Linked DNA regions of Homo sapiens: all the other regions are linked to region 1. Evidence: fine-mapped expression QTL. A gene starts in region 1. Each other region holds a variant in brackets. All regions are shown on one strand. Distances are from middle to middle.

Evidence for each region.
Region 2: its variant is fine-mapped to the expression of IQSEC3 in subcutaneous fat (GTEx, PIP above 0.99).
Region 3: its variant is fine-mapped to the expression of IQSEC3 in testis (GTEx, PIP above 0.99).
Region 4: its variant is fine-mapped to the expression of IQSEC3 in whole blood (TOPMed, PIP above 0.99).
Region 5: its variant is fine-mapped to the expression of IQSEC3 in lung (TOPMed, PIP above 0.99).
Region 6: its variant is fine-mapped to the expression of IQSEC3 in lung (TOPMed, PIP 0.98).
Region 7: its variant is fine-mapped to the expression of IQSEC3 in whole blood (TOPMed, PIP above 0.99). The same link has a PIP of 0.9 or more in T cells.

What each region holds. Positions count from the first base shown.
Region 1 is chr12:64,784-68,846 of GRCh38, forward strand. IQSEC3 (IQ motif and Sec7 domain ArfGEF 3) reads left to right here and starts at 1,984. Exons shown (of 14, transcript NM_001170738.2): 1 at 1,984-2,653. The coding sequence starts at 2,100.
Region 2 is chr12:132,665-136,727 of GRCh38, forward strand. All of the region lies in intron 3 of IQSEC3 (IQ motif and Sec7 domain ArfGEF 3), which reads left to right. Among named protein-coding and RNA genes, the nearest start is that of IQSEC3-AS3, 14 kb to the right of the region's middle. The variant T/A (reference allele first, on the strand shown) is at 2,301.
Region 3 is chr12:160,829-164,891 of GRCh38, forward strand. IQSEC3 (IQ motif and Sec7 domain ArfGEF 3) reads left to right here. Exons shown (of 14, transcript NM_001170738.2): 8 at 1,098-1,237; 9 at 2,666-2,791. IQSEC3-AS1 (IQSEC3 antisense RNA 1) reads right to left here. Exons shown (of 3, transcript NR_183431.1): 3 at 3,792-3,929. Among named protein-coding and RNA genes, the nearest start is that of IQSEC3-AS3, 14 kb to the left of the region's middle. The variant T/C (reference allele first, on the strand shown) is at 1,812.
Region 4 is chr12:125,097-129,159 of GRCh38, forward strand. It overlaps IQSEC3 (IQ motif and Sec7 domain ArfGEF 3), which reads left to right. Exons shown (of 14, transcript NM_001170738.2): 3 at 537-816. Among named protein-coding and RNA genes, the nearest start is that of IQSEC3-AS2, 15 kb to the left of the region's middle. The variant C/T (reference allele first, on the strand shown) is at 2,150.
Region 5 is chr12:145,716-149,778 of GRCh38, forward strand. All of the region lies in intron 5 of IQSEC3 (IQ motif and Sec7 domain ArfGEF 3), which reads left to right. It overlaps IQSEC3-AS3 (IQSEC3 antisense RNA 3), which reads right to left and starts at 3,454. Exons shown (of 10, transcript NR_033859.2): 1 at 3,364-3,454. RefSeq lists an enhancer at 1-451. The variant C/T (reference allele first, on the strand shown) is at 2,179.
Region 6 is chr12:167,938-172,000 of GRCh38, forward strand. IQSEC3 (IQ motif and Sec7 domain ArfGEF 3) reads left to right here. Exons shown (of 14, transcript NM_001170738.2): 12 at 1,076-1,168; 13 at 3,175-3,224. All of the region lies in intron 1 of IQSEC3-AS1 (IQSEC3 antisense RNA 1), which reads right to left. Among named protein-coding and RNA genes, the nearest start is that of IQSEC3-AS1, 12 kb to the right of the region's middle. RefSeq lists a silencer at 401-874. The variant C/G (reference allele first, on the strand shown) is at 2,039.
Region 7 is chr12:139,218-143,273 of GRCh38, forward strand. IQSEC3 (IQ motif and Sec7 domain ArfGEF 3) reads left to right here. Exons shown (of 14, transcript NM_001170738.2): 4 at 1-137; 5 at 1,907-2,068. IQSEC3-AS3 (IQSEC3 antisense RNA 3) reads right to left here. Exons shown (of 10, transcript NR_033859.2): 3 at 4,022-4,056; 4 at 2,117-3,416; 5 at 1,695-2,027; 6 at 1,431-1,586; 7 at 1,023-1,153. Among named protein-coding and RNA genes, the nearest start is that of IQSEC3-AS3, 7.9 kb to the right of the region's middle. The variant C/G (reference allele first, on the strand shown) is at 1,559.

The DNA.
Region 1 (4,063 bases):
ATGTGCAGAGCACAAGTTCCTTCTCATAAGGTCATTCAAGTCTGGCACCACGTGGTGGTGGGGGGTGGGCCAGCTCACTGGGCACATGGTACCCATAAATATGCCTACCCTGGGGGAATGGAAGGTTGACAGGGAGCCTGATGGACATGTGTGTGAAGAACGGAACAACACAATAACAAACATGCGAAGCGTACTCATAGCCCTTCCTCCTTCCCATCCCATTCCTATAAAAGAGGAAAGAACAACTCATTTCCTTCACGGGGCATGGTGGTATGCATCTGTAGTCCCACCTACTCAGGAAGCTGAGGCTAGAGGATTCCTTGATCCCAGGAGGTCAAGGATGGAGTAAGCTATGATCCTGCCACTGCACTCCAGCCTCGGTGACAGACAAGACTTTAAAAAAAAAAAAAAGTAAAGGAAAAGAAAAGGAAAGGGATATTTCCCTGCCAAATTAATTTAAACCAAGTGCTCTATTTCCATTCATTAGTTTTTTCCCTGCTGCCTGATGTATCTTTCTCATATCTGGCCCCCTGTTCTGTCTACCTGTTGAAATATTTCCCATTCTTCGTGGCCCAACTTGAGTAACACCTCTGTCAGAACTTATCAGATCAACACAGTCAAATGAATCCTCTCCCTCCCCTGAACTCTATGGCACTTGGCTTGAAGAGCTCTTACAGAAATCTTGAGTTGTGTTTTACTTATTCATGTGCATGGCATATCTACTCTATGAGATTGGAATCAACTTGATTATAGAAATGATAACTTATTATCTATGCTAGATGTGGCTTGCATAGATTCTGTACATTACTTTGCACCTAGTGAGTGGTGATTATTGTAGACATGAATGAATGATTCAATCGGTGCTGATTAATGTCTCTGAGCTTTTGCTCATGCTGTCTTCCCTTTATGGAAAACCCTTCCCACACCAAGGGTCACTTCCTGTAAGAAGCCTCCCTGGATCTCCAAGCTGCTGGCTCCTATAGCACTCTGGGCAAACCTCTGCCTGATTACTCACCACCACTATCATACGTCAAAGTTAATCATGACCAATTTCACCCACTTATTTATAAGCTTCAAAAAGCCTAACATTCCATTCTAGTCATGCTTCTCTTACCACCATCTAGCACAGTGTTTGGTAATAGTGTGCATTTTATAACTGTTTGTCAAATAGAATGATCTATTCAGAAGCTTCTGGAAGCGTTAGCCCTTGCCACAGAGGACCTCGTTTATTTAGTGTTTCTATCAGGAACTGCCACAGTTGTCTTGAGGTCTCACTCCCAGAGGAAACCCAGCATGAACAGCCTTCCCATCCCAAGTTTCGTCACGGATGAAGGAAGGAGCAGGACCAGACGCTCTTTAGGGTCCCTTAGAGCCCCAGGATTCTTGTGTTCCAGGGAATCCCCTGGCAGAATAGATTGCTGCGAGCAAAAGAGGCGAGTGTGGCCCCTCCTCAGCAGGTCTCTAGATGAACCCCAGCCTCTGGAAGGCCTGGACCTGGGAAAAAAGAATTCGCGTCCCTTCAGGGCCCCACGCCTTCCTGTCCTCCAGCACATTTCTCTTTCTTGGCCCCACCTTCCCTTTTTCTGCTTCCTCTCTGCTGGCCTCTCCCCTTCTCTTCCTTTCTTTTCTGTTTCTCTTCTCCTACAGGTCCCACCGCACCTTCCCAGTATCGCTGCTTCCCCTTCGCCTACTTCCCAGTCTGGCCAGTCAGATTCACCGTCCTTCTCGGGTCGCCTGCGTTATCTTGCTTTCCTCCCACGCCCCGACAGAGGCTCCCTCTCGCTGGCCTCCTCCCTCTCCTCTCTGCCCTGCAGGCAGCAGAGCCTTCGCTGACGCCAAGAGGCAGCGAGGTGGGGAGGCGAGGAGTTGGGGAGGTCTGGAGGTAGGGGGTGGGGTGGGGGTGGGGCCTTGCGCAGCCGCCCCGCCCCGCGATGCGTGTGTGAAGGTCGGGGTGGCAGTGACGCGGCGCCGGCGGGGGGAGGGAGGCTGGGCCGGTGGGAGAGGGAGGCGAGCCGACCGCTGGGCTGCTGGGCTCCCGCGCCCTCGCGCTCCCCGCCGCCAGCCCAGGCGCAGGCAGGGCGCAGGCGGCGGCGGGCGGCATGGAGAGCCTGCTGGAGAATCCGGTGCGCGCCGTGCTCTACCTCAAGGAGCTCACGGCCATCGTGCAGAACCAGCAGAGCCTCATCCACACCCAGCGAGAGCGTATCGACGAGCTGGAGCGGCGGCTGGACGAGCTGAGCGCTGAGAACCGCAGCCTGTGGGAGCACCAGCAGCTGCTGCAAGCCCAGCCTCCGCCCGGGCTCGTCCCCCCGTCATCGGCCCCGCTGCCGGCCGCTCCGGCCACCGCTCCTGCCGCCGCCGCCAGGGCCCAGGAACCTCTCCAGGACCAGGGACAGCGCTCAGCAGCCGCGCCGCATCCCGCGCCCGATCGGCCGCCGCGTCAGCACCACGGACAGCTCCTGGAGCAGCCCCAGCGGGGCCCTGGCAGCAGGGCTCACACACCCCAGTCGCCCCACAAGCATCTGGGGACACAAGGGGCCGTGACTGACAAGGAGAAGGAGCGTCCCCCGAGTTGCTGCGCTGCTGCCGGAGCCCTCCTTCAGCACAAATCCCCCTCCGCCCTCGGCAAGGGCGTCCTGAGCAGGAGACCTGAGTGAGCGGGGAGAGGAGATGGGCACTGTTGTGGTGGGAGCAAGGGAAGCAAGTGGGTGTGAGGGAGAGACGGGGACGTTGGGTGCGTAGGAGTCTAAAGGACCGGAGTGATGTGGCCTGAAGGCGCCAGAAGTGTGCAAAGGAGATTTTGGGTAAATGAGGGAACGATATCCCTGCTTGAGAAGGTTTTGGGGAATGCTGGAGCAAAAAGGAGTAACCAGACCATTAGTAGGAGCAAAGGAGGAAGGAGGTGGGTGTTAAGCGATTGGTGATACTGGGAACTGACAGCATTTAAACGGGGTTAGGCTGGGTTGAAGTTCGAGTGAAGATTAAACTGTAGAAAAGAGAACCATTGAAGGAATCTTTTTAAGTGAGAAAAAATTTGGAAGGAAGTTTGGGTAGTAAAAGTATTTGCATGGAGACTGAGATGTGAGAAAAGCTGAAGGCTTGGAAAGAGGCATGTGAAGAGCTTTAAAAAGGCTGGGGCCCAGGAAGAGTAGGACTGGGGTAGAGGGGAATCCAGGAGGCCGGGGACAAACCTGAAAAGCAGGAGTGATGTGGGAAACCAAGGGAGCTGGAGGCAGAGGAAGAGAAAATGTGGCTCTTTAGCTGGTGAAGTGGGAGCCACAGCTAGGAGTGGCTCATTTAGGGAAGCTTTCTCTTCTCTGACCTGATTGGACACCCTTCCTCTGAATTCCCGCAGAGCCGAAGAGGTGCAAGGGAACATCCCATCAAACCAATGGAGGACTCAGGCATGGCTTGAGGACTCAGTCTGGTTACAGCTTTTTCCTCCAACTCAAGGAGGGTTTTTCATACAGGGTGTTTGGCCGTTGTTGAAAGGGAGCAATGACATGGGGGACAGTTGGCAGATGGAGTTGGTATTCAGATGCCATGCCTGTTTAAATCTCCCTGTTAAGGCCAGCAACTGCAAACCCTTTTTTCCCGGTTATCTGGTGATCACTGAAATCTTGCCTTGGGTCCTGAGAGAAATGTTAACCTCTCAGTTCCTAGAACTTCAAGCTCTTTCTTCACTCAGGAGGTCCATGAACTAGGAATATGGGAAGAAGATATGAAAGTGTCTGGGATGTTCTCTCCTCTGTACTGGAAAGGCTGTGGCCATGTCTGCTTCTTTTCTCTGATTAGGCAAGTGATGGAGAACTAAACAAAGAACAGTTCAAGGGAAATTGTCCCTGGTCAGCACCTGACCTTGACAATGGTGATGCATAAGGGAATGGGGAGGGGGAAGTAGAGCTGAGAATCTCATCTTCATCCAGGTGCATTAAGTCTGGGAGATACTTGTGAATATTTGCTGTATTCCTTCAAAACTCATTTTCTTTTACCATCTGTGGTAGAGTTAGAGAAGTTGGGTTAGGGCAGGGTAGCTCACAGAGCACGTTGATCAAAACCACAG
Region 2 (4,063 bases), 68 kb after region 1:
AGGACAAGGCAAGTTTCCCAGGCTGGGTGCTTGTCAGGCCAATAAGGAAGTCAACAAGAGCTGGTTTGGGTGAGGTAGGGAAAACAGTGGCATAGCCTAGATGGACAGAGGATACACAGGCTGCTGGAAATGTGGGTCTAGGATCAAGGCTAGGTATGGAGGCTTGAGAGTCATTCCCATCATTGTCACTGTCACCATTAAGCAGCTACCACTTATGAAGCTCCTGCTCTCTGCTGGGTGCTCCATGAAATAATTTAATCCTCACAAGAAGATACAGGGTCAGCAGGATAAACCCCACTTAATAGATATGAAAACTGAGAGTCAAAGATGTTAAATTCATCCAAGTCCAATCAGCTGGGATCTGGGGCTGGCCATTCCCCTTACTTGCCACTTGCTCACTGGCCCATCAAAGTAGAAGTTAAGAGAGTGGACTGGGTCCTCAGAGGGAAGGCAGACAGGGCTGAGAAGGTATCCACCTGGGGAGCACGTTTACAGTGACCTGGAAGGCTCTGACTGACACAGCTCCCTTCTTAATTCATTGTTAATTATCACCCATCACGGGCTCCTCTGATGATGTCCAACACAGAAGCCGTGGATGATGTCCAGAGTGTACGGGGAAAATTAAAACGTGTGGAGACTGGCAGTGGCACCCATGTGACTCGTAATCAGCACACGTAGGGGTTTTGTGGCCAGAATACAGGATTAAGGGGTTGTAGGGAGACAGGACAACCAGGATAGACTGAGTCATGAGCACTGGGGAGAGTTGCAGAAAGGAGCCAGGAGGGAGGCTGAGGAGGCCCCTGGGGCTGAGTGACAAGCCCCAGATCTGCCTCTTCCTTGCTGGTTGGCCTTGGATGAGTTTAACATCTCTCGCCCTTGACTGAGATGGGAGGCAGCAGGACCCAGAGCACAGGGCTCAGGGCAGGGTTGGGTCAGCATCTGGCCTTTGCTCCTGGAGTGAGGCACAGGTTAGTGTTCTGGAGGTTCAGTGTAAAATAGGAAGAAAGGGAACAGGCTAGGGCAGGGTTGGGTCAGTATCTGGCATTTGCTCCTGGAGTGAGGCAGAGGTTAGTGTTCTGGAGGTTCAGTGTAAAATAGGAAGAAAGGGAACAGGCTAGGGCAGGGTTGGGTCAGCATCTGGCATTTGCTCCTGGAGTGAGGCAGAGGTTAGTGTTCTGGAGGTTCAGTGTGAAATAGGAAGAAAGGGAACAGGCTAGGGCAGGGTTGGGTCAGTATCTGGCATTTGCTCCTGGAGTGAGGCAGAGGTTATTGTTCTGGAGGTTCAGTGTAAAATAGGAAGAAAGGGAACAGGCTAGTGCCCCAGCGGCAGCGGAGTCAGCAGTTACGCTGTAGCCTGGGGAGATCTGTGGCCAGGTGCAAAGCTGCAGATAGGACGAAGGAAATGGGAGTAAAAAGAGCATGTGTAGGGTGAGCTGAACACACAAAGGAGGCAGGAGCGGGAGAGCGTCTGCTGAGTCAGATTAGGAAGGTTTTTGAGAGTCACAAATATAACTTTGGAATTAATTTGTCGAATACACACTCATTGAAGGCCCACTATGTGCTGGGCACTGTCCAAGCATTGGAGGAGATAGCAGTGGCCACGGCAGGTGAAATCTGCCCTCGTGGGACTTGATGTCTAGTAGAGGATGTGATGGGACAGATGCAAGAATTTAAAATCTGGTTTTCTTTCCTGCTTGGGTGAAGCATAGACATTGCCCAGTAGTACACGGAGTCTCCTAGGGTTATGTCAGCTGGTCTTCTGCCTTCAAGCAGGATGATACCATGCCAAGGGCATGGACCCCATCACCATTTTGGAAGCATCTCAAGCAATGGATTTCATACCTTCCCTGTGTTGCCAACAGCATCTCGTGCTGCAAAAGGATGCTCTTGGGCCTGGGGTTTTCCTAGAAGTATAAATAGGCCAGACGGGAAAGAAATGTGAAATCTGGCCGGGCGCAGTGGCCCACGCCTGTAATCCCAGCACTTTGGGAGGCCAAGGTGGGCGGATCACCGAGGTGCCAGGAGTTCAGGTCCAGCCTGGCCAACATAGCAAAACTCTGTCTCTACTAAAAAAAATACAAAAGTTAGCCAGGCACAGTGGCACATGCCTGTAATCCCAGCACTTTGGGAGGCCAAGGTGGGGTATAAATAGGCCAGACGGGAAAGAAATGTGAAATCTGGCCGGGCACGGTGGCTCACGCCTGTAATCCCAGCACTCTGGGAGGCCAAGGTGGGCGGATCACCAAGGCACCAGGAGTTCAAGTCCAGCCTGGCAAACATGGCAAAACCCTGTCTCTACT[T/A]AAAAAAATACAAAAATTAGCCAGGCACAGTGGCGCACACCTGTAATCCCAGCTACTCAGGAGGCTGAGGCAGGAGAATCGCTTGAACCCAGGAGGCGGAGGTTATGGTGAGCCGAGATCGTGCCACTGCACTCCAGCCTGGGTGACAGAGCGGGACTCCATCTCAAAGAAAAAAAAAAGAAATGTGAAATCTGTCAGTTTCTCATGGTGCTTGAATAGGGCTGACAGACAGAAATTGAGAGAAAAGGAGACATTTTAGTGATCAGTTCCCCTTCCTCTCTACATTTCCCCTTGGGGAAGGACTTTCCTGCCTGAGCCAAAGCCAAGTCCCTATTCCAGGCCTCAGGGAATGTGTCAAAGTTCAGCAGGGAGAATGAGCCAAGCTACATTATTTCCACAGGAGCAGGAACAGAATGCCTCAGAGGCAAGTATCTGTGTCTCTTATGGGTGCATGAGGTCATACCTAGTAAAGATCAAGTGGGGAAGTGTCCAGTTCGTACCGTGGGCAAAATTCTCAGATGGCCCCCAAGTCCCCTTCATGCTAGTGTACACATCCTATATAATCCCCTTCCCTTGAGTATGGGCAGGATGAGTGAATGTGATGGGACATCACTCCAATGATTAGGTTACCAATTGGTTGATTTTGAGTTAATAAAAAGAAACATCACCCAGGGTGGGTCTGAGCTAATCAGGTCAGCCCTATAAATGAAGCTGAAGCCCCAGACAGACACTGTGCCGTTAGCCTTGAAGGACCAAGCTATCAGGTTATGAAGCAGGCCACATGGTAGGGGACAGCAGGCAACCTCTAGTGACTGAGGGCCTAAGTCCTGTGATTACAAGGAATTGAATTGTGCCAACAAGAGCGAGCTCAAAGGAGGACCCCACACCTTAGATGATATTGCAGCCCTGACTGATATCTTGGTTTCAGCCTGGTGAGATCCCGAGCAGATAACCCAGATGAGCTGTGCCCAGACTAGATTCACAGAGCTGCATGAGAAATAAACAGGTGCTACTTTAAGTGGCTGGATTTGTGGTCATGTGTTACACAGCAATAGATGAGGAATACACTTGGTGTGGTTTAGAGCACCTTGAAGACCCCTCCAATAGGGGGATTGTGATAGCACTGGGAGCTTCCTCCTGCTCAGGGCCTTGTCCCTCATGAAATGCAAGTAACTTTGGGAGAAGCCATATAGGAAGGCTTAGTTGCCATTTACACATTAATCTGCGTGAGTTCCAACGATCTCCAAGGGTAGAGTTGGATGTTGGGGGAGACAGAATGATGTCCCCAGGTTTGGGAATGGGGAATGGGAATGGCCAGGCTGGAAGCACTGGAGGCAAGCACTAAGGATGTCTCATTTTATCTGGGATTGTCCTTGGGGATTGGGGTTGAATCCACAAGGTGTCCTGAGCTAAGAGGCTACCTCTGCTAGCGTGGAATGGGGCACCCATCACACCCTGCAGGGAGGGAGCAGAGGGCACGGCTGGGCTGTGGGAGGCAGGCATTCATTCTGGCTGCAGCCTTTGGGGGCTCCAGTGGAGCAGGAAGCAGGTTGAAGTGTTGTGCTGAGGGATGAAGTATGGCCTTTCTATCTGTACCCTCGCCATCCATGATCCCTGGAGAACAATCTGTACCCTCCCCACCCATGATCCCTGGAGAACACGGGACGTCCCTGTTCTTGCCTTGAGTCGTTCATCTCAGCGCACCCATCCCGATTCTTCGTTCATTCGGGAAGGACACCACGTGTAAGTGGCATGTCTGGTTG
Region 3 (4,063 bases), 96 kb after region 1:
ATTTATCCACTTGCCAGGTCCTGGGGTGCCTGTGCCCCTGTTCTCTGTCTTTGTGGGTGTATGCTTTTCTAAAAGATTCCTTTCTCCCGAGTATTCAGAAGCAGCAGAGGCATGCAGCCTGCCACCTTGAACTGGGGGCATCCATACACTCAGCCTTTCTCCTTGGTTTTTCTCACCCGCCGCCTGATTTCTTTCAGCCTCCTTGGCTGCTGCATGGCTCATTTGCCTGACTTCGAGAACCAAGATCAGACGTGGAAGAGACCAGAGCAGGCCGGGAGCTGCGTGTGGAAGGCGGGGTGTCCTTTCAGTAGCTGGGAACACTCCTTTGAGAGATGCTTGCCAAAGTTGTTTTATTTTTAATTTTTCCCTCTTATAAAAGAAGCGTATAGTCATTAAAGAAAGATTTGGAAATAGTAGAAAGAAGATATTTTAATCGCCTGTTTCTCCAAAAGAAACGTGTTTTCTTGTTGGCATATTTCCTGCCAGTGTTTTTTTGTTGCCCGAGTTTTATCATTACTATGAAGCAGGAGGTGGGACAGGGGTGTCCTCGCCTGCATTGCCAGGGGTCTGCCTGCTCCCCCACTGCTCCCAGTGAGGGAGGAATCTCTTCAAAGACTAAGCCCTCAATGCCATGCTCCCTACTGGAGGGGAGAGGAGAGCCCAGCAGGAGGAAGATCCAAAAGAGAACGAAACAGAAGCTCCTTATGATGCTGGAGTGGTGGGGTGGAGCTGGGGGGTGAGACGAACACAAGGAAGACGACAGAACTGCAGAGGCGCACAGGGTTAGCAGGAACATGGAGGCTGTATCTGCCATCAGGAAAGAGGCCTGGGAGGTGGGCGTGAAGACTCTGGTTGGGGAACATCAGGAGGTGAGGCAGGAGATGTGTGTTGGGGCCATATCATTAGTTTTGGTGCCTGGCTAAGGAACTTGTTCTTAATTGAATGGGTATGAGGCACCAGCCATTGAAGGCATGGCAAGAACCAAGGCCACCCCCCGGGAGCTCCAGGCTGGATGGGGGTCTCTTCTGTCTGGCTCCAGGGCTCTGACACCCTCCCTCCCAACCCCACCACCACCCCTGCCCACTCCACGTTGTTAGGTGTGGACGATGGCGCTGACATCCCCAGGGAGCTGGTGGTAGGCATCTATGAGAGGATACAGCAGAAGGAGCTCAAGTCCAATGAGGACCACGTCACGTACGTCACCAAGGTGGAGAAGTCCATTGTGGGCATGAAGACAGTGAGTGTCCACAAGCTACCTATCTCCCGTCTCCTTTCCTTTCTTTCTTCCTGGCATCTCTTCCCATTCTCCTTCTTACCTTTCCAAAACTCTTTTTTCATATTCATTCACATGATAGTTATGAAGTACCTACTGTGTGCCAGACACTGCATCTCTTTTTTTTTTTCTTGCCTGATTTCCTCATTGCCTCTTGCCACCCGATACTGCAGCAGGAGAGACGGAGATGAGATGTCAGGAAGGACTGCCCAGTGGTCTAGGGTGGAAGCATCTGGGTGGCCAGATGAGATTTAGTATCCCTTTCCTAGGACAGCATGACTACCAGGCATTCCTGGATGGTCCTGATGAGTGGAAGGCAGGAAATGGGCTCAATAGGCTCCAGGCTGTGGCATCACCATAGATTTGTCCTATTGGTAGTGACCTGTGTCCCAGGCAGCATGTTCCAAGCCTGCCATGATTTTTAAAGTGGGACTTCTCTGTAGGCTACTACACTTTATACTATAAAGGATGTCATGGGGGTTCCAGTTCCTCCTCCTCATATTCTTGCCTCAGGGGACGGTGTGGGAGAGTTTGGAGA[T/C]CTCTTCTGAGGCCCTGCACTGGGCTCCCTCCTCCCAGTCTGTGCAGGGACAGGCTTTTCTGCTTTGAGAGCCTTTATTGCTGAGGTCTCAGCATCTGTCGGGTTGCAAGCGACTGGTTTGTCTTACACGCTGGAGTAGATGCCAGGTGTCTCTGTGATCCCTTCGCTCTCGCACACCTGCATCTCTGCAGTATAGAAAGGGTGGAGGTGTCATATCTGCAGGCCGCAGCCTGGGGCAGGGGATGCCCTCAAGGTTACGGAGGGAAGCAGGTTGACAGTGGCTGGACTGGAACAGCCTGCAAGCTCTTCTCAATTTCCTATTCCTGTCCCTCTATCCCCTCATTTACTGTGGCTCAGTGGGCCCCTTCTCTGGCCGTGCTCCCCAAGAAGCATGACAGGGATGAGCCCTGGGACAGGGGGTGAACGTGCGAGGGAAAGAGCCTCAGACGAGGAGAGAGAAGGATGAGAGTCAAGTCCAGGCCCCAGGACAGAACCGGAGCCCCTCCCCTCCCTCTCCACAAAACCGAACCCCTCCCCTCTCCTCCCTCCACAGAACCGGAGCCCTCCCCTCCCCCTCCACAGAACCGGACCCCTCCCCTCCCCTCCCTCCACAGAACCGGACCCCTCCCCTCCCCTCCCTCCACAGAACCGGACCCCTCCCCTCCCCTCCCTCCACAGAACCGGACCCCTCCCCTCTCCTCCCTCCACAGAACCGGACCCCTCCCCTCTCCTCCCTCCACAGAACCGGGCCCCTCCCCTCTCCCGGGCTGTCTCCTCTTCTGGAAAATGGGCGCGTGGGTGGGGAGGCCTCCAGGCCTCTGGTCTCTCCCGCTGAGCGCCCTGCCCGCGTGCAGGTGCTGTCCGTGCCCCACCGCCGCCTGGTGTGCTGCAGCCGGCTCTTCGAGGTGACGGATGTGAACAAGCTGCAGAAGCAGGCAGCGCATCAGAGGGAGGTGTTCCTCTTCAATGACCTGCTGGTGGTGAGTGGCCTCCGCTCCGGGACTGGGCTGGGCTGGGGCTGCCTCTGCCGCCCTGGTCAGCCTGGGCAGGGTCCCTGAAGTGGGCAGGAAAGGACGCCCAGAGCTTTCAGACAGAATGCCTGTTCCGTGGGACGGATCTGCCTTCATGGTGCTTTCACACCGTGGGCGTGAGGGGGCTCAGGCAGACATGCTAATTCCTACCTCATAAGTCATGACACCGAGACGTCAGATGATCTGCTCGTGGTTGCACAAACTGTTAACGAACTAGTTCCCAGACCACTGGCCTCTCCACGTTACAGGAAGCCCAGGACAGGGAGTGCACAGGGCTGTGCCTCAGACCCCAGGGCCTGGGAGGAGCAGGGCCTAGGCGGAGCATGCTCTGTCCCTGGGCCTAGGCGAGGCTGGTGTGTGTGTGTGCGTGCACACACATACACACATCTGTACCCACAGATACTTTTTTTGCTCTTTGAAAAGAAGTATCCATTCAACAAATATTTGATCAGCGTTGACCATGTGCCAGGCATCATTGTAGGTCTGGAAAACTGGTGAGCAGGACTGGAGCAGGGCTTGTGTCTCCCTCGCACCGGCCCTCTCTATCCATGAGCCACGTTGGCACTGCCTCCAAAGTGATCACAAGCCTGAACCACCTCTCACCACCTCCACTACTACAGTCTTAGTGCACGCCTGGTACATTCAGTGAACCACATCAGCCTCCACACGGCTCTCCCCACCCCCCTGAGAGCAGCAGCGTGATCTCTCTGGAGTGCACATCAGGCCACGTGTCCCCTTTCCCTAACCTGCCTCCCCGCCCTCTCCTCAGCCCTGGGAGGCGCCTCCCTCCTGTGGGCCAGGCCTTTGTACTTGCTGCTCCTTCTTGCAAAGCTCCTCCAGACCTTGCACTCTCCTCTTGCCTTCCTGGCCTCCTCCTTTTCATTCAAGTCTCAAATCACTTTTGATTCCTTACCCTGTTTCATTTTCTTCAAAACACGTAGCACTTTGGTTTTGTTTTTTTGCTGTTATGCTTTATTGTTTGATCACCTGATGGACACTGTGACACTCCACATTCCATAAGCACCTTAAGGGCAGGGGCTCTGTCCTGAGTTCTCCTGTATCTCCAGGGCTCAGCTCACAGAAGCTGCTGAATAGAAATTTGTTTATTAAGCAACCAGATGACTTTACTAAAACGAGCTTTCATTTTAGTAGGGGAGGGAGATAGAAAATAATTAAGAAACAGACAAACAAGATAATATCAGATTGGGGGAAGGCACTATG
Region 4 (4,063 bases), 60 kb after region 1:
GTAGATCAGCTTCCCCAGCCACCTGAGCCTGTGCCCAAGGAGCCGGGCCACCGATACTTACAATAGGTAACACATGTAGCAGTCACCATGACTCAGGCACAGCTTAAAGAGTTGTAAGTAACTTCAGCCGCCAGTATCCCTGTGAGGTAGGTACTGTTACTGTGCCCATTTTATAGATGGAGAAACAGAGGTGCAATGAGGCTGAGTGACCTGCTCAGGGTCACACAGCTCGTAAGAGGCAGAGCCCAGATGCACCGCTCTGCCATACTGCTTCTAAGCAGAGGCTCCTGAGCCCTGGCCATAGCTGCCCCTTCCCTCTGTCTGAGCTGCCTCCCCAGGTGCGGGTTCTTCTCCGTGCCCAGGGCTCATCCCTGCCATGGTAGCCCCTCCCTAGAGGAGACTGTGAAAGACACCCCCTCCAGTCCTTGCCACAGGAAAGGCAGGCCAGAGTGCCTAGCTTCTCTCCCCGACCCCCACATCCACACGCACCCTGTCGCCCTCTCCCCCAACCGAGCACCGTTGCCTTCTGTTCACAGTGATGGCTCCTGCACCCAGGCCGGTGGGGGCATGGAGGACTCCGTGGTGGCAGCGGCGGCGGTGGCAGCCGGCAGACCCAGTGCCCATGCCCCGAAGGCTCAAGCCCAGGAGCTGCAGGAGGAGGAGGAGCGGCCGGGGGCAGGGGCTGCCTCCCCAAGGGCTGGCCCCCAGCACAAGGCCTCCCCCGGCCGGCAGCAGCCTGCCCTGGCGACGGCGCTGTGCCCCCACGCCCCTGCCGCCTCCGATTACGAACTCTCCCTTGACCTAAAGAATAAACAGGTACCCAGGGCCTCCTAGGGGGGCGGGGAGGGTGGTGAAGGGGCCCTGCTTTGGGGGCTGTCGAGGGTACCAGGGATATCCCCGCTGGGTCCCCTCCGCTACAGGCACACCTCTTTTGCCACAGTTCTCCTGCATTGAGCGACCTAGTTTGCCCTTCCCTGGACCAGCCACAGGCCTCTGCCTTCTACCATGGCAGGGCTCATACCCTCGCAATGCCAGGCCCTTGGGCAGCACGTCCAGGGGCTCTGCTCCTCACACAGTGCTCAGCAAGCCTCCACCGCCCCACTGACCACTAGGCAAGGAGCCCACTGTTCTCTGGGGTGTCCCCACCTCCATCTGCTGCTTAGAGGCCATAGTCCAGCTTCCACGCCCACCAAGGGAGCCGGTGTTAGGCACCCACAGGCACAAACGAGGCACAAAGACAATGGTCTCCTCGAAGCAGACAGGATTCCCAAGATCAGTCCAGACTGGGGGAGTCCAAAGCTCCTCTATTGGAGAACAGATTCCATGGAGGGGCCTGGGCCTCCATTTTCCATTCAGGAAGAGAAAGTGGCCAATTGTGGGGCCCCCATTGAACCCCCAAAAAAGATAATGCCTCAGTTTGTCTTGGCAGACAAGAGTCTTGATGGAAGGTGTGTGTGTGTGTGTGTGTGTGTGTGTGCGCTTAGAGAAAGGTGTGATGGTGTGATACTGTTAAGGAAAGAGCTTTGAACTTGGAGATGTAGACATGGGATCCAGTCCTCGCTCTTCCTCCTATGAACTCAGTGACTTTGGGAGTTGCCAGTTAAACCCTCTGGGCATTCGTTTCCTCATCTGCAAAAAAATGAGAATTAACTTTGAATCACCTCCAAGGTCCCTTCTGCCCCAAAATGTGTAGGTTCTAGAGAACAATTCTTCAACCCAATAGGCAAGGTATCTTCAGAAAGGAAGCTAGTGGGAAGGCCACTAAGACTGAGTCAAGCCAAACTAACCTCCTTCCTCTCTTGGCATTGATGCCAAGCTCATATCCTGGCTCAGGCCAGCTGTAGGCAGCACATCAGTAAAGTGTTTGACCAAATCCCCCAAGATACCCTATGTGCACATGCCAGGAATGTGTGGATTACTAACAATATAGTAAGGAGGGTTGTTCTCAAACCGAATTATCCAAAAAATATTCATCAAAAAAAATCCCAGGGAGTTGAGTGGACATGCTGTCCAGGTCACTGATAAGGCACCAATTTGAGGCATACAAGTTACATTCACCTGGCTTTCTGATGACATAAAGCTGAAAGAGAACAGCTGATACCTTGGTGATAGCATCCCAGACTTTGTAAAAACCTCATCAGGGGCCAGG[C/T]GTGGTGGCTCATACCTGTAATCCCAGCACTTTGGGAGGCCAAGGCGGGTGGATCACGAGGCCAGGAGTTTGAGACCAGCCCGCCCAATATGGTGAAACCCTGTCTGTACTAAAAATACAAAAATTAGCCAGGCGTGGTGGCGCATGCCTGTAATCCCAGCTACTCAGGAGGCTGAGGCAGAATTCCTTGAATGCGGGAGGCGGAGGTTGCAGTGAGCCAAGATTGCACCACAGCACTCCAGCCTGGGCGACAGAGTGAGACTCTGTCTCAAAACAAAACAAAACAAAACAAAAAACACCTCATCAGGACAGAAGGATGGTTTTAATGAAAAAAAAAAAGTCGGATGAAATGTGGAAAAATCTAAAATTCTGCTCCCAGCTTCGAAAACCCCACAGCACTAGCATAAGACATTCAGGCCCTTCGCCCACTTTTTGAGAAGTGTCTGTTCATGTCCTTTGCCCACTTTTTGATGGGGTTGTTTGTTTTTTTCTTGTAAATTTGTTTGAGTTCATTGTAGATTCTGGATATTAGCCCTTTGTCAGATGAGTAGGTTGCGAAAATTTTCTCCCATTTTGTAGGTTGCCTGTTCACTCTGATGGTAGTTTCTTTTGCTGTGCAGGAGCTCTTTAGTTTAATTAGATCCCATTTGTCAACTTTGGCTTTTGTTGAACATGGCACACATCTATAGGAGACTGAACTCGACTCCTCTCTCTTCTGCCATGAGCTGTATGGCCTTGGGCAAGTTGCTTGACTTCTCTGGCCTCAGCTGCCTCCTATGTCTGGGACTTCACAGGCTCTTCCCTTGGCCTCAATCTCTGAAGTTTCCGCTCCCCTCCACACCCCTGCACTTGGCCTTCTCTTGCTTTAGTACTTGCTTTAGGTACCTCTTCCTCCTCTCAGGCAGTTTTCCCTGCCTCCCAAGCCTGCACTGGGTGTCCCTCTCAGTCATCCCACAGGGCCCGGGTGTCCCCGTCACAGCCCTTCAGCCCTGTGTCAGCATTTCCTGTTTGCTTGACCCCCTCCTTGAAGGCAGGTGCATGACTTGTTCCTCATTATATTCTCAGTGCTTAATGCAGTGCCTGGCGAAGAAGCTGCTGGAAGGATAAGAGACGGGAAATGATCACTTAGTGACATAAAGGGGGATGGGATGGGTATACAGCATGGCGCCAGGAACTGACTCTGCCTTAGGTCTCTTTGAGATCTAACACTTGATATTCCAACCCAGTGATTCCGCCAGCCACACTGAATCCCGTGTTCCATGGCCTGGGAGGGGTGTTGGACAATCTTAGCTCCCCAGCCCACCGACCCGCCAAGCCTCCTCTGTCAGCCAGTCCAGATCCCCAGGACGGTTTTCCTTGGCTGTTCTCCTTCCTTCGCCTCTGCTCTAGCCCCAAGCCCCACTGATGCTGCCTCTTAACAGTTCCCGAATCCCACCCTCTCTTGCCTTCCCCAGTGCCCCTGCCCCAGGAGGCCAGGCCATCCTTCCTCTTGCCTGCACGCCGGGAGACCTCCTGTGCTTCCCCTTCTTTGAGCTCTGTCCCTTCCAACCTCACCTCCACATTGCAGCTGAATCATCTTCCTAAAGTGCACCTCTGACCGCGCTGATCCTCGGGAAAGCCTCTGATGGCTCCTCACGGTGTGCAGGACAGAGGCCTCTCCAGGCTCCCTGCCACAGTCCCAGCCCCATGGGGGTTCCAGCCGTTCCTATTTGCTGTCCCGAATCTCAAGCCACCCTCACCTCTGGGCTTTTGTGTGGCTTTGTTTCCTCTCCTGGGGATTCTCCTCACCTGTCCCCGACCCCATCTGCTGCATCTGGAAGACTTCTGCTCATACTTCAGGTCGCAGCCGAGGCACGTGCTTTTACCCATTGCCTGTTGCCTCCTCTGTGCTGTCTGGGAGTGGGAGCTGTTCCG
Region 5 (4,063 bases), 81 kb after region 1:
GGGCTGGAAGCCTCTCCCTCTCGGTTTTCACATGGCTGGGGAATTTGGCTCTGCTCTATTTCCTTTCTGAAATGTTCGCTTCAGCAGGTTTAAAGTCCAGCGGATGGGGAACGTTCCATGCTGGCTGTGAGCGGCCTCTTTCTGGCCTGGATGATTTTTTCTGGTGTGAATCCCATGCACGTGGAGAGCATTGGTGTCTACCATCTCCATGAAATGCAGGAAGGCAGCTTCTGGGTTGAGCTGCCGGAAGAAAGCTTCCTGGGTGTTCCTTCCCTCCACTGCGTCTGCTCCATCCTTTGTTAAATTCCAAGACATATCAGGGTTTGACGTTTGGGTCAGATTTCATTATTTTATTTCCATGGAAATATGTTGGCCAGAGTATAACAGATTTGTTCTTCTTAGAGGACGTTTAGAAATGAAGACAGATTGTCTGTCAAATTCAACAGTCTGGAAGGCTCTGGCCTTTCATTGCTAGGAAGAAATCATTTGAGAATGTCCTGCCCACATTGCTGTGTATAATCTCAGTTACCTTATTCCTGAGGAATTCCCATGAGGAAGGGGAGAGCAGGCTGGGGCCCAGGCAGACCTTATGTGTCCGGAGGAGATAAAAAGAGGCCCAGGCAGGGATTGTGGCTCACACCTGTGGTCGCAGCACTTTGGGAGGCCAAGGCATCAGAATCACTTGAACCTAGGAGGTTAGGGCTACTGTGAGCTCTTACGGCACCACTGCACTCCAGCCTGGGCAAAAGAGACCTCATCTCTACAAAAAAATTTTTTTTAAGTAGCCAGGTGTGGTGGCGGGCACCTGTGGTCCCAGCTACTCGGGAGGCCAAGGCAGGGGAATCACTTGAGCCCAGGAGATGGAAACTGCAGTGAGTTGTGACCGTGCCACTGCACTCTAGCCTGGAAGCCTGGACAACAGAGTGGGAGCCTGTCTCAAAAAAGAAGAAAGAAAGAGAGAAAGAGAGAGAGAGAGGAGAGTGGGAGGAAGGGAGGGAGGGAGGGAGGAGGAAGAAAGAGAGAGATAGATAGAGAGAGACAGAGACCCAGTGCAGGCAGGCAGGAATAGAAGAGTTAGGGTCATTTCCACTGCTTTGGAAACGGTACACTGCCAGCACCAGAAGGCTGGAAGGAGAACATCTTCAAAAGTGGTGTCTTTGGGGTTATGGCCTTGACCCTTCACCTCTCCACTCTCTCCTGCCCCACTCCCACCACAGATAGACAAGGGATTCTCCTGAACAGTCAACAGTTGTGAGAGTTTAAGACCTACTTACTTCTGTAGCTGGAGACCTTGGGACCTTCAGTCCAGGATTGAGACTCCCTTTGGCTTCGTCACTTTGGCATATAAATTGGACTTTTATATAAAAATGGACCTACCTGCCACCCAGTCCTCCCCTGACTACTCAGGCCTTTGCTCTGGAGGAGTCAGTCTCCTCTGTGTGATAGCTGTGGCTGCAACAGGCCACTCGGACGTGGGCCTTCTAGAAGGGTCTTCCGGGGTGTCACTGTCTCCAGGGCAGGGCTGTCATATCTCCAGGAGGGCCGTTTGTGACCAAGCAGGCCGTGAAATATTATGCCAGCTCACACAGATCAGCATGTGCTGTGTGCCACAGGTGCTGTTCTGAGAGGCTTACATGCAAAACCTCGTTCCATCTTCACAGCGACTCCGGGAGGGACGTGCTGCTAATCTGTACCCAATGAAGGCACTGAGGAACAGAGAGGTTGGGGAGCTTGCCCACAGTCACAGAGCTGATCAGTGGCTGAGGTCTGAAGCCAGGCACAATGACTCATCACCTGAGCCCTTAACCCTGCACCATCCAGCCTCCGTGCGTCATTCCAGGACCCCTGTGGTCCGGTTGCTCTCACAGTCCTTGTCAGTCCCCCATCATGAATCATGACACTGAAGACCCCTTAGACAATCAGCTGGTCCAGCCCTCTCATTTTACCCTGGCAGAAACTGAGGCCCTGGGGAAAAGAAATGACTAGTCTCCTGGCCAGCGGCAGAGAAATTGAACAAAATCAGGTACTCTCCCACCTCTTACCTTGGCGTTATTTGCTATGCCCCGATCCTCTCAATTTGGGAAGAAAGCACAGCTGAGAAACTGATTCGTAAGTCTCAAGAGGTCTGAGCCAGATTTAGCTTCCTCTCTCTGGTGCATGTATATCTTAAAGGGCCGA[C/T]GGATGGCTGTCTAATGATACAATTCCAGGCAGAATTAGTCGGTGGGGCAGGGAGGGGTCCTGTCCACTGACAGGCGGGTCAGCCCACACCTAATGAAAATGATCATGTATTAAGCCCTGTTGTATACCAGGAACTTCACACCCACTGCCTCCTTTAACACTCATAACACCCCTGCCCAGTAGATGTTCTCAGTGTTGTCTCCATTCTCAAGGTGAGGAAATGAGCCACCAAGAGGCTCCATGACTTGAAGTAACAGCTCCACGGCCTTTTCTTAATCCACCCACTGTTATTGGCATAGAGCAGTGCTTCCAAAAGGTGGTCCCTGGACCAGCAGCGTCAGCTTCACCTGGAAGCTTGTTAGCAATGCAAACTCTCAGTTCCCGCTCCAGGCCCACTGAATCAGACTCTGCGGCTCGGGGCCCAGCAATCCGTGCACTAATAAACCCGCCACGCAATTCCAATGCATCACTCAGTTTGAGACCCACCAGCAAACAGGGATGCTGCCGAGCCCAGCAAAAGAAAAATCAGCTCAGGGCTTCTAAATTGTAAGGGTAGTTTGAACTTAGTTCTTTGGGTACCTGAGTCTCAAGGTGTGAGTGGCAGCCAGCCCTACCCAGGCCCCCTCAAAAGAGAGTTTCTTCGTCCTCATGACATCACCAGGAACACTGGCAGATCCTGCATCAGCTTCCTTCTCTTCTATTTTCTTAGCCGCATCGCACTTTGCCAAAACGCCTTGACCTTTGTTGAGCATGTTATGAATTCTGACGAATAAAATAACTCTCTGGAGGATGGGGATATTTTTAATTGAATTGTAGAAGCCAACAACTGCCAAATAAAGCCAGGGTTTCTACATTCCGTGGCAATAGGTGGTTTAGATTTCCTTCCTAATCCTGAAACCTGGGCTTAGTCTCAGCCAGGAGCACGAGCTAGGGCTTCACCTTCCAGATCTTCGCCGTCTCTTCCAGCCAATTAAAAATCCCTGCTGCTACCATTACCTATTTTCAGCTCCCAACCAGTTCCTTTGTCTGCCAGACACTGTCTTGCTATCATTAAAAAAAAAAAAGAAGGTTGAGATGATGAAATTCATTTTGATCACAGGCGTGTAGGACGCTTCATTTCCCTGCAACACAAACTGATTCCACGCACAGATCAATGTTAACAAGCAATTTTATGCAAGATTGTACCTGTTTCTTCAGAGGCAGGGAACATACATCCTTTTTCCCCAACGCTTGTGAGGTATTTGCTGCAGACCTTGCAGAAGCTCACAGGAAAGAGGGGGAGGCCTTAGCAAAACCGGTACCACTCGTGATCCACGCGCCCGTCAGCAGCACCTCCTGAGACAGGTCCGGTCATGCCTGGCTGGAAGCGGTCTAATCGGTGCCCATTGCTCTAGTTCTCAGCACTCACTCACTTGCATGTGCAGTGGGAGGAAGGGGGCCTATGCCCTCCACACTGCCTCACTGCCTGGAGTCTGGAAGCCTCGGGGCCATTTGCAAGTCCATCACAGGTCTCGGTGTCAGCTCCAGATAATCTTGGCAGCAAAGCAGGCTGAGTAATCCTGGGCCGTTGGGTAGAACTTCCAAAGGCACAGGCCACTGAGGCTCCTTCTCCAGCTGCCGGCATGCAGTCATTCCTGGTCATCTCTCACTCACTCATTCATTCATCCCACAAAACAGTGATTGGGTGCCCATACACCAGGGAGGCAGAGATTAAAATAACTGCCCTATCTTGAAGGAGCCCGTAGCCTCGTGGGGAAGACAGGCAGGCAAATGTTATGACACAGGGAGATAAACGCAATGGTCGACAGAAGGTGGGTTCCGGGGACAACGGAGGTCAGGGAAGACTCCTAGAGAGGATGAGAGCTAAACAGAGACCTGCAGGGTT
Region 6 (4,063 bases), 100 kb after region 1:
CCTCTGTGGGGAGAGAAACAACTCTCAGTTGAGTAGAAATATTTAGCATTGATCGATGGGATGGTGTGATTTAGGCAACCAGGACAAATTGTTCTGGTTTGGGGGCCTACGGTTCAGTGTCCCTGGTTTCTAGACAACCAGAGAGACTGAAAATGGAGCCCAGGAGAGTAGCTTTAATAAAAGGAACTTGAGTTATGTCTCCTGGAAAAGAGAAGCGGGAGGAGTGATTTAATAATCATGTCAAATCTCCAAGGATGGCAGCCGGCAGTTCTGTAGCTCCACTGAGAGAAGAACAAGAAGGAACAGGTTTCCAATCCAGTGAGAGGAATTAAAGTTGAGTACCTAGACAGATGTCCTAGCACTGCAGGCTTGTAGCTTCCACACCCTCGGTGTGGACTTTCCTCCTTGGGAGAGATTTGAACACCTTGCGGAGGCTCAGCTGGCCAGGCAGGCTCTGTCCTCCCAGGCAGGCTCCGTCCTCCCAGGCGCCGGGTGGAGAGGTGGGTGTCACCCCTGTCAGCAGGCTCTGCTGTGCCAAGTGCGTTTCACACAATGTAACAAAACTGATACAGGTTGGTGCTAAAGTAATTGCGGTTTTTGCCATTACTTTCGCACAAACCTTAATACTTAAGGAGTACAGGTCACTAGCCAGGCCTTGTGCTTTATGTGTATCTCCCACGCAGTCCTCTTAATGACACCGTGAAGTGGGCCTGGCTGTCCTCTCGAGTGAGGCATGGAGAGGTTGGGTAACTTGCCTAAAACCACACAGCCAGGGAGTGTCAGGACCAGGACCCAAACCCAGGCAGTTCACCTCCCTCACATCGGCCTCTTCTGTGCCTCTCTGACGTTCAAGCAGATAGGATCATCCCCATGTACAGATGACGAAACTGCGGCTCCGAGGGGGTATTTAACTTGCTATTCAGTGGTGGGGCCAGACCCGAGGTCCGTGTTTCACAGCATGTACTGGGACCTCTCCTCCTCTTCCTCCCCTTTCTGCTGGCCCCTCATTTCCTGCCTCGCCTCTGTGTGGTTGAGGTTAAGGTTTCTCTTGCTCACGGGCCTCTGCATTCCTTAGGGGAGCTGGAGAAGCAGCAGGGAACAAAGACACTCTCCTTCAAGCCCTGCGGAGCCCAGGGGGACCCACAGTCAAAGCAAGGATCGCCGACAGGTGAGCCTCGGCTCCGCTCAGGGCACCAGTCCCCATGGAGGCCACTCGGGGACCCTGGGTGTGGGTCCTGGGCAATCTGCAGGGAGAGGTGCCCATTCCCGTGGCGTGTTTCTTCCTGCTGAGGAGCGCCAGGCTTGCCTTCTTTAATCTCATGAGCTTTAGTGGTGGGAGTGAGGAGGAAGGCGAGAGAGAAATGTGTCTGTCCATTTTGCAAACTGCACCAGAGGTCTGGAGTCCGTGTGAGATGTCACTGTCTGCCCTGGAGGAGTCAGGCAAGAGTCCTGGCATCCTGGCCCCTGCAGGGAGGCCTTCCCTCCTGCAGCCAGGCTGTCTGGACGAGGCGAGGTCAAGAGAAGCCCCACGAGGAACACTCTCCAACCAGGCAGTGTAAGAGGGCAGGGTGACCAGAAGGATCTGGATCTTGCTCTTCTCTGTACAGTCCCTTCTCTAATGAGCCACAAGCACTTCCTGACCCCTGGCTCAGGTCAGCCCACCCCAAATCCAGAGAGACCCTCAAACTCCACTTCTCTAGTGGTTTCTCCAGTGGAATTGCTCACTCCAGCCGAGTCACACTGGCTCCAGAGCTGGCCCCTCCTTTGGCCTGCCCCAACCTTACCCCACCTGCAGGGGGCCAGGAAAGGTTTCCACCACCTCCCTCCACCAGCCCCAAATAAAGAGCATGAGGGGAGATGCATGAGAATTCAGTCTCATCCCAGTGAAATCCCAGCAAGCCATTCACAACTGTCCACCCATTAGTTAACTCGGTCACTTACTCTCACACTCAACAAACACTTCTCGAATGGCTGCTGCCCTGTGCAGAACACTGGAAAGCCAGGGTCATAGTGAGACGCCAGCTTGAGCTGAGAAGCT[C/G]CAGTGGGCCCCGTGTGGTCCATGACCCGCCACAGTCGGCCCTGAGTCCTGACTTGGAACAGGCAGCAGCGTGGGGACTAGTTACGGCAGCGAGGACATGAGATTCACTTTCCAAGCAGGACATGGGGCTCTTTTCGCTATGTGGAGATTCTGTGATGGAATCTTTCCTGTATGGGTTTGACCTGCCATCGTGCGTCCGTAATTCTCCACGCTGCCTGATCTCCACTGGCCTCTTCATTTCTATAAGGTCATAGGGCACGGGTTGCTGCTTTTGTTTTCTCAGCTGTGGAACCCCAGAGCCAGCCCTCAGCTGTGTGTCATTCCCTGCCATTCCTTCCTGCCTCTCTTTTGGAAGCTGCCCGCCCTGGTTAGGCCCAGATGCCTGTCCCCAGGGACGTGTCCCTTAGTCCCCTCCACAGCGGGGTCTTTCTCATTCCCAAACAATGGTGCAGCTCCCTCTCCTGCTGCAGGAAGCAGAGGGCTGAGCACAGCAGGGGGAAGCTGGCACCCCCAGGGGTTGGGAAATGAGAGGGGCTCCTGCGGGGGTCGGGGTGGAAGCTGGGAGTGACTCAGCCACAAAGAGCCAATGAGCTGTCCGTGGGGGTCCGCAGGGCCCCTGCTGCTGTGCCAGGCCGGCCAGAAGGCCCTCAGAGTAATTACAGAGCAGTTATCGGCTCTCACCGTGCCCGGCACTGCGGTGAGTGCTGTGCAGGCCTCAGCCCATTCAGTCCTGCCCCCTCAGCCAGTCTGCAGGGCTGGAGCAAAGAAGCGTGGCCCACGCTCAAGGAGCCTGTGATCCACGGAGGCTGATGAACGTGGCGCCCACAACCCAGGCCCCCTCCAAGCCTTTTACAGTTCGTACTGGGAAGGCTTTGACTGTGGGTAAATCAGATTCCACAATGCCAACATCAGAAAGAGCGGCAGCGATCTTCTAGTCTGCGGCAGCCCAGAGAGATGTAGCATCTCGCCCAGGTCACATAGCTCCTAAGTGGCAGAGTGGGGCTCCCAACCTCCGCCTCAGTGAGGAGCAGTGTGACCCCAAGTCTTAGCTGCAGAGATGCTTGAGGGGCACAGGGGAGGGGCAGGGGCTTGGCTCAGCCGGTGGAGAATGAGCCCTGTGCTCTTTGCATTCAAAGCCAAAAGGGAAGCCGCGCTCAGGGAGAGGCCGGCGGAGAGCACGGTGGAGGTAAGTGGAGCCCTGGTTGCCCAGGTGAGTGACTACCCTGCCCCCTTGTTCTTCTTCTCACCGTCTCTGTTGTTTCTCTTCTCAGGTATTAATCAATGCCTCCCCAGCCCGACTCACCATTTTACCAATTTCAAGAGATACAATTAAAAGTTACTGCTAGCATGGGTAATGCCACTGTTCCAGCGCCTAATTAAGCCACGAGCTCTTTCTCCCCTTTCCCCAGCCTGCTGCCCTCCGAGGCCGAGCTCCCAGACTAACACAGTGGAGACGGAGCTCACGGCACCCTAGGGCCATCCTTCCTGTGTGCCCCCAAATCCACCTCCCCAGCAAATGCTCACTGCTCACTGCTCCCCCAGTACTTGCTGTATCAGAAGACCCCACATCCCGTTCCCCAAGTCCTCCCACCATCCATAGCGGGGAGCCTGGGCTCCCTCGGAGAATTACCCCTTAGGCCCCAAACGATCACTTCTGGGGCAGACCCTGCCCTCTTGGACACCTGGGGCTAGGTTGGAGAATTGAGACTTGGGGGCAGGTGGGAGGGGGAACTCCTCCCCGGAACAACTGGTCCATCTGGAAAGCTGGCCATGGCGCAGGGATGTGTGTGCAAAAGAAAATGAGACAGAGTAGGGTGGGGCTGTCCTGAGGGCTGTCCTGGGGGAAGTGATAAGCTGAAGACTGTCTGTGGTGGAGGGGAGGCTGCCCATTTGGCTCCATGCCATACAGTGAGGGACTGCAGAAGACCCAGCAGCAGCTGGTCCCTGCCAAACCCCCCCAGTGCCACCTATGGGAGGAGTGTGCAGGTGCCCCTACAAGCCTCGTGAGCCCCACCCCTCTCCCAC
Region 7 (4,056 bases), 74 kb after region 1:
AAGGACGCCCTGCAGGCCATGATCCTGAGCCTGCCGCGCTACCACTGCGAGAACCCAGCCAGCTGCAAGTCGCCCACGCTCTCCACCGACACCCTGCGCAAGCGGCTCTACCGCATCGGCCTCAACCTCTTCAACATGTAAGTCAGCCCCGGCCCCCAGCCCGGAGTCCTGGGCGTCCTGGGAGGGAGGGAAGGAGGAGGGCACCTTCCCTCCACCAAGCAGGGCGCCAGGTAACTTCCCACGTCATGCCAGGGTCCTCCAGGCAGGCGCATCTGTGCCGTGCCTGATCCCTGAGGTCATGTTTAGGAAGTACATATTTTATTTTAATCATCCTGAGTTTATTTTAAGAAAGATTAAAGGAAAAAAATAACACATCAGACACATGCTTTCACAACTGTTACAGCTTAAGATGAAGCTAGGGTTTGAAAAGTAAGAGAATGTAAAAGAAAAGACAGTATTAAGTAAATAACAGTCCAGGCCGTTTGAGGATTACGCAGCAATCATTCGGGTGGATATGAAGCCAGGGAAAACGCATTAGCTCCCAGGGTTGGTGAAATGCGAGGCTGGGTGGGGGAGGGAGGAGAGGCGCCTCGTAAAGAATGCCGGCTGAGAGCAGGAGAGGGGAGGGCTACGAGGAAGAGAGAGTGTGAAGCAGGCAGAGGCACAGGAGAAAGAGAACAGGGGAGAAATGACCGACCGCCATAGCTCAGAGACCCCAGCGAGACCGGGACTGGTCCTGCACCGAATGTATACAGCCAGTCCCAAGCAGAGGAAAGGAAGCACACCTGCCCCTCCCATGGAAATGTCAGGTCCAGGAGGCAGGCACTCGCCTCCATCCTCCACTCGCCCCTTCATAACCCTGCGCCAAGAGCACATCTCCCCGGCCCTAATGCGTGTTCATTCGTTCATTCGGCTGTTATTTATTGGGTGCCAGGCACTGTGACCACAGAGGTGAGAAGGACACATCCCCTGGCCTCAAGAGGCTCCTATTCTAGGGGAAGTAGCTACTGTTCATAGCTCACCTTACATAAAGCATCTGTAATCTTCCAGCAGTATCTACACAGAGGTATTACCATGCTGTTTTACAGAAAAGAAGCCGGCTCACACCAGTAAGGCGAAATGCACACGATGAAATAGCTAGTACTCGGCAGACCTAGGGAAAGGCGGATCTGACTCTGAACCACTCCCACTTCTGCAGTGTCTCTTCTGCATGCACATGAAAACTCATACAGACACTCATCTGCCCCAAGACAGGAATTCTTAAACTATCCATAGTGAAGAACCAGTTTTGTTCCCCCACACCCTTCTGAAAATACATTGTGGGCTAATACTTTTGTAAAATACAATAAAAATGAGGTGCTAGAAAGACAATCACATGCCTGGCTGTCCCGGAAAATGTCGAAATGCTATGGGAGGTTCTCAGTGCTTACCTTGTGTTTCTGTACTTATCTCCTCCCGGACCTGTGAGGAACAGCTCAGGGAGCAGCATGGCTTCAAAGCTTGCAAAGGGAAGAGGTGGTGTGGCGGAGGTCTCACCTCTGTTTCTCCCACCCTCTCT[C/G]CAGGGTTGGGGCGTCTGCGGTGGGGACCTGCATATTGACAACAGGATATGGGTAGGGGGAAGGGCAGGACTGGGGTAAGACCCAGGAGGCAGGGACAGAGAAGGGTACTTCTCCTCCATCTGCTCTGGAATTCACTTTGTTTGCAGATCTCCCCTGTCCTCCTTCTGGTCACACACCATCCTCTGCGTGAGGACATTCAGTGGGTTGAGGCTCTGGTGAGAGAAGCTTCAATGGGGAACTGGATTTCCAAGAACCTCTGGGTACTTCTATGGGTGGAAGACAGGGAGGAAAGAGTCATGGATGGCTTCAGCTCACTCTCTACTGCTTCTCCCCACCCCCACCTCCAGAAACCCCGACAAGGGCATCCAGTTCCTGATCTCACGCGGCTTCATCCCGGACACCCCCATCGGTGTGGCCCATTTCCTCCTCCAGCGAAAGGGCCTCAGCCGCCAGATGATTGGAGAGTTCCTGGGCAACAGCAAGAAGCAGTTCAACCGCGACGTGCTGGAGTGAGTACCCCACACTCCGGGCTTTCCCCACTCCTTCCCACACCCCACCTGCCCGGGCTCTCTCTGTGAGCTCCTTGGTGAAATCCTCGCTCCAGTTCTAACAGCTTCCAGCTTCCAGATTGTCCACAGGAACCAGAATCCCCTCTTTAGCCCATCACCCCAGTGGGCCGGAGCCCTGTCTCCCGTCAGAGTCATTGATTGAGTTCGCCCCAGGCCAGGCTTCGTTTGAGGCAGCAGGGATACAGAAATGGTCCAAAGAGACAAAAAGCCCTTTCTGCCTGTCACTCTCCAGGGCAAGAGAAACCAGGAAAAGGAAAGGGCTTGTGTCAGCACTGGGGTTCATCTCTGCCTGGTGAAGAGCCCCTCAGCCCCCCTCCCCCAGGACCCTCCCATTCTCCAAGGTTCATTTTCATATCGCTGGAGGCAAAAATGTGAGACAGAAAAAAGAAGGGGTTAAACTGAGGGTTTTAGAGCAAGAAAATACTACAATTCCATAAAGATAAATCTACCAACAAAATCATGACCAAAGAAAAATTGTTTCTTTAAAACCAAAGAAAATGGTTTTAAAGTCCAGTAGCAGGGTGGGGACCCCCAGGGGGCTGCCTTTGCCCCCGCTCAGCCTTGATAGTGTGGACAGGCAAGAGTCTCTTCACACTCATGCCTTGTCCAGAATGGCAGGGCGGGGCTGGCGCTCCTCTGAGGCTGAGGGGCCTTGCAGCTACTCCTTCCCTGGGACATCGGCTTCAGCCCCTGCCATGCCCCCGTGCTCTTTCTGGCTTCCACTGGTCCCCGAGGTTGGCCTCCTTCTTGAAGGTCTCCATTCTTCAGGGACCCTCCCTCATTTCTCTCCCCTCTTTCTCCTTGGGGACAGTCAGCAGAAGTGTCTCCCCGGAGGCCCTGGGAAGAGCTCTCCCTTTCATCCTCGCTCCTGGAGCAGCAAGGGACTGCCAGAGAGGGTTTGGACGCTGGGGGAGTCATCCACCCAGTGGTCAGCTTCCCTGGAGTGGGAGCTTGGATATTTCACTTCTATTTATGGAGCTGTCTTGGTGCTGTGTGCCCATATTGAGAAGCCCCTGTCCTCTGGGCCTGCGTTTCCATGCCTGCAGAGTGGTGCTGGGTTGTGAGGGCTGGACCCATTGCCCTCTGAAATCCCTGTCACATTTCTAAATCCACTGACGCGGTGGTTTTCTGACTGAGTTCAATGAGTGAGGGCTGGGGTTCGCACAGGTACCTTGAAATCCCTGCACAGCCCTCAGCTGGGCAGAACTGAGTTCCTGTCCCTGACTCTTGGTGGCTTTTGACAATTTATCATCCCTCCTGGAGCTGCTGGTGGAGACGCTCTGTGGACCTCAAAGAGGAAAGAGAGACAATGCTAGGCAGCGCCTCCCTCTCACCTCCTTTCTCTTCTCCCTCCGGCTTCCCTTCCCTTCCCCAGCACTGCTGTGGGGGCCCATGGAGGTGCTACTGGGATCCAGGATACATCTAGGTTGCAGAAGGGGAGAGATGGCATTTCCTCACGCCCTTCCTTTTCTGTGTCCCCTAGTTGGCTCATCTCTCTGGCTTTCCTGCACTGTTGTCCCAGTCCATCCCTTCCCAAGCCAGGGTGAGGTGCTGGCCCCGTAGCCCCAGGCACCCCTGCTGTCTCTCTGCTCTGGGGGCAGGAGTGACTCTGCTTCACCCACAGGCCCTGACTGTTGTCTGTTTTCTTCTGTCTTTCCCAGTCTCCATGTGGCCTGCGCCCTAAATTCTAACCTGCAAGGCCCACATTGATCTGGAGTGCTGGGAACACAGCGTTTTCCTGCAGCCCAGGTGGTGCTGAGTCGCACAATGGAAACTAATTGCCCTCTTCCCTGGGAGGCTGCGTGTATGGGCTGTGGGCTGGAGGCTTGGAGCAGTGGCTGCAAGCCTGTGCTGAGGAGGGGAGCTGGGCTGGGGGCTGGGGGCTGGGCTAACCTTAGGTAGGGATCAGGCTTGGGATGGGTAGGGGC